Linked DNA regions of Homo sapiens. The protein of the gene in region 1 interacts with the protein of each later gene in a biochemical or structural test. Each region holds a gene or a part of one and is shown on either strand. Other genes may lie near its edges.

Region 1 (3,381 bases):
TACTCATAGAAAATGCCTCCCAATAGGGGTGTTTTTATATGTTTCAATTTCAAATATCACTTGAAAGACATTCTTTTTTTTTTTTTTTTTTTTTTTTTTTTTTTTTTTTTTAGAGGCTTGCTCTGTCGCCCAGGCTGGAGTGCAGTGGTGCGATCTCGGCTCACTGCAACCTCTGCCTCCTGGGTTCAAGTGATTCTCCTGCCTCAGCCTCCCGAGTAGCTAGGATTACAGGTGCGCACCACCACACCTGGATAATTTCTGGATTTTTGGTAGAGACGGAGTTTCACCATGTTGCCCCGGCTGGTCTTGAACTCCTGACCTCAAGTGATCTGCCCACGTCGGCTTCCCAAAGTGCTGGGATTACAGGCATGAGCCACTGCACCTGGCTGAAAGACATTCTTTAGTCAAAACTATTATAAAAATCAGTCTGATGTCCTTGAAATGGAAAAGCCTGCACCTCTGGAACAATCCATACATCAGGAGGCATGCAGGGAGGACACTGCAGATGATCAAAGTTTTATTTAACATTATAGAACACTTAAAAATAAACAATATGATTGCATTTCTGTTGTGTAACTTTGAAAAATGTTTTCAAGCACACATAAAAGCAACAAGTTTTACCCCCAACAAGTATGCTATGCAGCCAGTCCCTAACTGCTGGGGTCAGCACTGCTCTCAACAGACAGCTGGGGTAGGAGGTAGGCTGCTGGTGTCCCTGCAGGCAGGTGGCTTTTCCTACTCGGAATGACGATGTCTTTTCTTGTTATGGTTCTCAATTGCCCTTCTAAGTGCTTCATCCTGGATAAGATCTGACTTTCTTATATCCGTGTGGCTACAGCCAATTTGAGGGCAACTGTGAGAAAGAAAGAACATCAAGTCAGTCCCCTTTACTGCCTTAAGCAGAAACTTCTTTTATACTCAAGTGTTTAAGTAAGGCATTTTACTGAAAAAGGAAAAGTGTCAAAATCAGGACCAAGCTGTGCTCATTCATTTATTCACTGAGTCCCTACCTGAGCCAGGCCCTGTCTGGGTGCTGGGGACACAAGCGATATGTGAGTAGTGCCTGCCTTATCATGAGCTAACTTTCTTTTTTTTTTCTGAGACGGAGTCTGGAGTGCAGTGGCACGATCCTGGCTCACTGCAAGCTCCGCCTCCCGGGTTCACACCATTCTCCTGCCTCAGCCTCCCGAGTAGCTGGGACTACAGGCACCCACCACCACGCCCGGCTAATTTTTGGTATTTTTAATAGAGTCAGGGTTTCACCGTGTTAGCCAGGATGGTCTCGATCTCCTGACCTCGTGATCCGCCCGCCTCGGCCTCCCAAAGTGCTGGGATTACCGGCGTGAGCCACCGCGCCCAGCCTATGAGCTATCTTTCTAATGAGGAAGACAGGCAACCACTAGGGAACCAAATAAATGCTTGCTGCAAGTTCAGGTCACCTTATGGGCTATGAGGGCAACAAAGCAGGGTCAGGGAGAGAGAGTGCTGGGGCCACAGCTTCACTGGCTGGACTCAGGGCATGCCTCACCGAACACATCTTATCTAGGGCAGGACCCAGAATGAAGCGTGGGAACAAGTCTGCATGTGGTCTGGGCTGAGGCAGTAGCAAGTGCAGTGCTGAGGACGTTCCAGCTTGGTGCCCTGGAGTGACAGCAAGCTCTATGTGGCTGCAGCGACCCAGGCAAGAGGGAGAGCAGTTGGAAGTGAGGTCAGTGCGCCAATGGGGCTTTGGAGTTTATTTAATTTAATTAATTTATTTATTTTGAGATGGAGTCTCACTCTTTCACCCAGGCTGGGGTGCAGTGGCGTGATCTCAGCTCACTGCAACTTCCGCCTCCTGGGTTCAAGCAATTCTCCTGCATCAGCCTCCTGAGTAGCTGGGATTACAGGCGCCTGCCACCATGCCTGGCTAATTTTGTGTATTTTTAGTAGAGATGGGGTTTCACCATGTTGGCCAGGCTGGTCTCGAACTCCTGACCTCAAGTGATCCACCTGCCTCGGCCTCCCAAAGTGCTGGGATTACAGGCATGAGCCACCGTGCCTGGACTTGGATTTTATTTTAAATATGAAGACAAAACACTGGAAGGTTTTGAGATGGGTGAGGAGTGTGTTTGGTTTACATCTGGAAAATGTTACTCTGGCTGCTTATGGAGAATACAAAACAGGGAGGTAAGAGAAGGGCAGGGAAAATAGCATGGGGGATCCTGCAGGGTGCAGGAGAGAGGTGAGGGCAGCTCGGCTGAGGGTGGTATGGCGATCAGCTTCAGGACATGCTTGACCATAGAACCTATAGGACTTGCCGATGGAGTGGCTGTGGAGCATAAGCGAAAGGGAAGAAGCGAGCTTCATCTGGGTAGATCAGTGACTGGTAGTGCCCTTCATCACAGTGGGAAACGATGGGGCAAAACAGGCTGCAGCACAGAACCACAGTCCTGGTTGGTATCTGTTTCCTCTGGAATGGATGCCCAGTAGCCCTCCTAGAAGAGAGACTGAGTGGGCCACTGGGACTCGGTGGAAAGGCTGCAGCTAAAGACATCAGTGAGTCACCCACAAAGGGGTGGAAACAAGCCACGGCTCTGCTTCGATGTGGTCTTCTCTGAGGGCAGTGGGCTGGATGAAACCACCTATTTCTTCTCAAAGAATCTGGTTCTCAAAGTGAACCAAATTTTGGTAGATTAGAGGCCCAATGTTTGGAGTCAAGCTAACCTAGGTCTGAATTTTCTCTCTACCACCTACTTGCTAGTTATGAGACCACAGGCAATTCACAATAACCCTCTTGAGCCTCCCTTGCCTCTGAGTTAAAATGGGGAGAGAACCCTTATTTCCCAAGGTGACAGTCAATACTGTTAATTCCCTCCCAGATCCTCTGTGCTCAATAATGTTAATTCCCTTCCAGATCCCCTGTGACTATCATGTGTTCCCTCATCATCATTCTTCCAAGAAGTTTTAAAGTTCTGGATCTATTTCTATCTTGCATATATCCCACACAGGCATGCACCCATTCATGCATTAATTGACTCTTCTAGGGATCAGCCCTATGCTAGGTTCTAAGCATGCAACTGTGAAATACAAATACATGGTTCCTGCCCACACAGAGCTCTGGCCCAGTGATCTGAGACAGCTCTCCATAAAGCACAGGATATTAAGACCAAAAACAACAAATGTGCAAACCACAGTAAAGATGCAAACCAGAAGGAAAGAAAGTTGGTCATGGGAGCTCCAATTTGTCTAGTGGTAGGAAGCCCAACAGTCCAACATGAAAGAAAGTATTTCTTGGCCCTGATCTGTGGATCAAGGAGTTTTTACATTAGAGGGGTATTAATCAATGAAATATAATATGCTTAATAACAGTATTTATTTTTAAAATATTAAAATATGGCC
Region 2 (3,500 bases), on another chromosome or scaffold:
GAATTGTGCATTTGAGGAACTAATGAGATAATTCTTTTGAGTAAAGTTTAAAGGAAGTTACATAAATATAAGCTGAGACAAGGGAGACAGCTTTATTAAGATCACTCTTTGCTATGTATCTAATACTTGAATCCTAGCACTGTTTGGACTCTGCAGAGACCATTTGGTGCAACGTCCTCATCATTTAGCATGAGAAATGAGGTCCGAGAAACATCACAGGTAATATGACGTTGAGCTATGGGAATATGATAGCTAGTTAGTGGCACTAATGTTTCCATTCTATTTTTCTGCATGTTTGAAATTTTTCACAAAACTTTTTAAAATAAAAATTAAATAGTTTTGACAATATTCTCAACAGGCAAGTCAGAGCAAAATACCTTTCCCAATCAAATTCCCAGAAATTTCAGCACCAAGCATCTTTAGCACTAAAACTTATTTATGAACATAGTCTTATACAATTTGAAACATGTATATGAATATTATAGCCCCATAATCTTAAAATAATCTGGTACCTAAGTCCTGAAAACAGTACTTTGACTCTCAATTTTCTGGCCTTTTCCCCAATATTTTCATTTTGATACACAGAGAACTTTAAAGGAAAGTGTGGTAACTTCCCTAATATCACGTGAGAAGCAGGGTCAAATAGACCTACTTTACTTCTTTGTGTAATTCAGTCTACACTATATGAATAAAAAATATGAAGAAATTTTACTTCTCAAAATAAATTTCCTCCTTAATACACTTCATATAACTTAAAGTTAATACATGGCTTCCTTAAAGTAAGTTATACCTGTCATGCCAAATTAGTCTCATTTGTATTAATATTTTAGTTGATATTCAAGAAAATATTATTTCTACAGTGTCTTCCATCTCCTGCCTACCTATCCTTAATATATGGTGTTTTTAAAAATAATTTTTAAAAGAAAAAATAAAGAAAATTTTTAAAATAATTAAATATTTAATATTTAGTAAATTAAATTAATAATTTAATAATTTAATATTTAAACAATTATTTAAATAATATAAATTATTTTAAAATATTTAATTTTAAGTGTACTGGTATCTCAGAAAGTATCAAATAGTCAATACAGCTTACCTTACTGCCTGTTATATCTTGAAACCCAGAAGGAAAAAAATAGTATTTGTTTAAAAGTCAAACTGCAAAGTTTTTCTTAATTCAGAAAAGCTACATAAATTTCAGATATAAGCATTATGAATTGAGTAAATGATTAACAGCTCTCACTATATAAAAACTACTTTATAATGGCAAACTACTGAGCACTTCCGTGTCAGGTGCTGTATATAATGTATATTACGTGTCAGGTGCTGCTGTATATTGCCTAATTAATAACCTTTAAGTCAAATCCTTTAAAACAACCCTTTGAGGTAGGTACCTGATGCAAGGGATCCCTGTAGCACACTGTGAGAAGCGCTGGCAGAGTGGACAAGGGCACAGGCTTGGATTCAAAATACCTAACTTCAAATCTTAGCTCTGCCACACTTTTTAGTTGTGGCTTCTGGCAAGTTACTTAACCTCTCTAAAAGTCTGTTTCTTTCTCTGTAAAATGAGAGTAATAATGCTTACCACATATGGTTAATAAAAGGATTAAATAAGACAGTGCTTACAAAGGGCAAGTGAAAAATAGAGAGTAAAACCAAAAGAGGACTTACAGTAAGCACTCCATAATGCTTTAGGTAAAGAGCATTACTTTCCCAATATGCCCAGAGTTGTTCTTGTTCTATCCACTAACTGAAATATTTAAAAAGACCATTTCCTAGTTGAGACTCTACAAAACCATACTTTAGAAAGAACATTCCCATCTCAATCTTAGCATAAGCCAGTAAATCTACTAGAATCGTCATACTGTTACATAAATTATATAACAAATGTGAAATAAATTTTAAATTCTCACAGTTTTATTTTCTTTCCCATTGTCTTCAGTCGTAAATATCAATTGTTTATTAATTTCATCCATACTAATTAATGATCGTGTTTTGATGAAGTGTTGAAAAGAGACAGCTTCCACATATTCCTGTAGTCCTGAAAGCGTGACAAAGAAAATTACTAAGAATAAGCACTTAATTAGTAAGAATGTCATAATAAAAAAACTTCATATTGATCATCATCTAGTTCAAAAAAAAGCTTAATGGATGCCTACTACAATGCCAGTACTAGACTAGACACTTAGAATAGAAAGAATGGCCTGGGGACCAGGCGCGGTGGCTCACGCCTGTAATCCCAGCACTTTAAAAGGCCAAGGCGGGTGGATCACTTCAGGTCAGGAGATGGAGACCAGCCTGGCCAACACAGTAAAACCCCAACTCTACTAAAAATACAAAAATTAGCTGGACATGGTGGCGGGCGCCTGTAATCTCTGGGCCACTGTGCCCAGCCAGAAAAAAAATTTTTTTAAGAGTTTAAGTAATTAGGATTTAAGAAAAGCTTATTCTGGCCGGGCACGGTGGCTCACGCCTGTAATCCCAGCACTTTGGGAGGCTGAGGTGGGCGGATCACCTGAGGTCAGGAGTTTGAGACCATCCTGGCCAACATGGCGAAACCCCATCTCTACTAAAAATACAAAAAATATTAGCCGGGTGTGGTGGCAGGAGCCCGTAATCCCAGCTACTCGGGAGGCTGAGGCAGGAGAATCGCTTGAACCCAGGAGCCGAAGGTTGCAGTGAGCCAAGACCGCACCATTGCACTCCAGCCTGGGGGACAAGAGCGAGACTTCGTCTCAAAAAAAAAAAAAGGGGGGGGGGGGAGAAAAGAAAAGCCTATTCCATAATTTTGATAGGCTTTAATAAAAATTATATAAATTAATTTGTTTTATTTTGCTGGGTAACGAAGCAATGATTCAAACAAATGAGACATAAAATTAAGAATCATTTGGGCCGTTCACGATGGCTCACGCCTGTAATCCCAGCACTTTGGGAGGCCCAGGCGGGTGGATCACGAGGTCAGGAGATCCAGACCATCCTGGCTAACATGGTGAAACCACATTTCTACTAAAAATAAAAAAACTTAGCCGGGCGTGGTGGCGGGCGCCTGTAGTCCCAGCTACACAGGAGGCTGAGGCAGGAGAATGGCGTGAACCCGGGAAGCAGAGCTTGCAGTGAGCCAAGATCATGCCACTGCACTGCGGCCTAGGCGGCAGAGCGAGACTCGTCGCAAAAAAAAAAAAATAATAATAATAATAATAATAATTTGGATCTTTCTTAAAGTTTTAATAGGCAAAATCACTTTTAACTAATGTAGGTAAGTGTCAAAATACCGTTTATCTTTTCATAGTTCAAAATGGATCTAAGACTAGATAACTCCTTTCTGCTTTGGTAGTTTAAGAAAAAAAAAAGAGAGCTATGCAATACAATTTTGTACAAGACAGAAACAACCCTTGAATTGAAGAGTAAATTTTGGTAAAGATCAAAATGTAACTTAAATACTTTTAAAAATGTTTATATAAATGTAAAGGGCACAAGTGCAATTTTGTTACATGTCTACA

The links.
Region 2: of the proteins of NSMCE2 (region 1) and TSNAX, one has a biochemical effect on the other in vitro, tested with the Homo sapiens proteins (one study listed by BioGRID).

Annotation. Positions count from the first base shown.
Region 1 is NC_000008.11:125,364,240-125,367,620, reverse strand, and holds the end of NSMCE2 (E3 SUMO-protein ligase NSE2), read right to left. Parts: intron 854-3,381; coding exon 736-853; 3' UTR 501-735; downstream 1-500. UniProt on the Homo sapiens protein: E3 SUMO-protein ligase component of the SMC5-SMC6 complex, a complex involved in DNA double-strand break repair by homologous recombination. Is not be required for the stability of the complex.
Region 2 is NC_000001.11:231,559,669-231,563,168, reverse strand, and holds part of TSNAX (translin-associated protein X), read right to left. Parts: intron 2,042-3,500; coding exon 1,914-2,041; intron 1-1,913.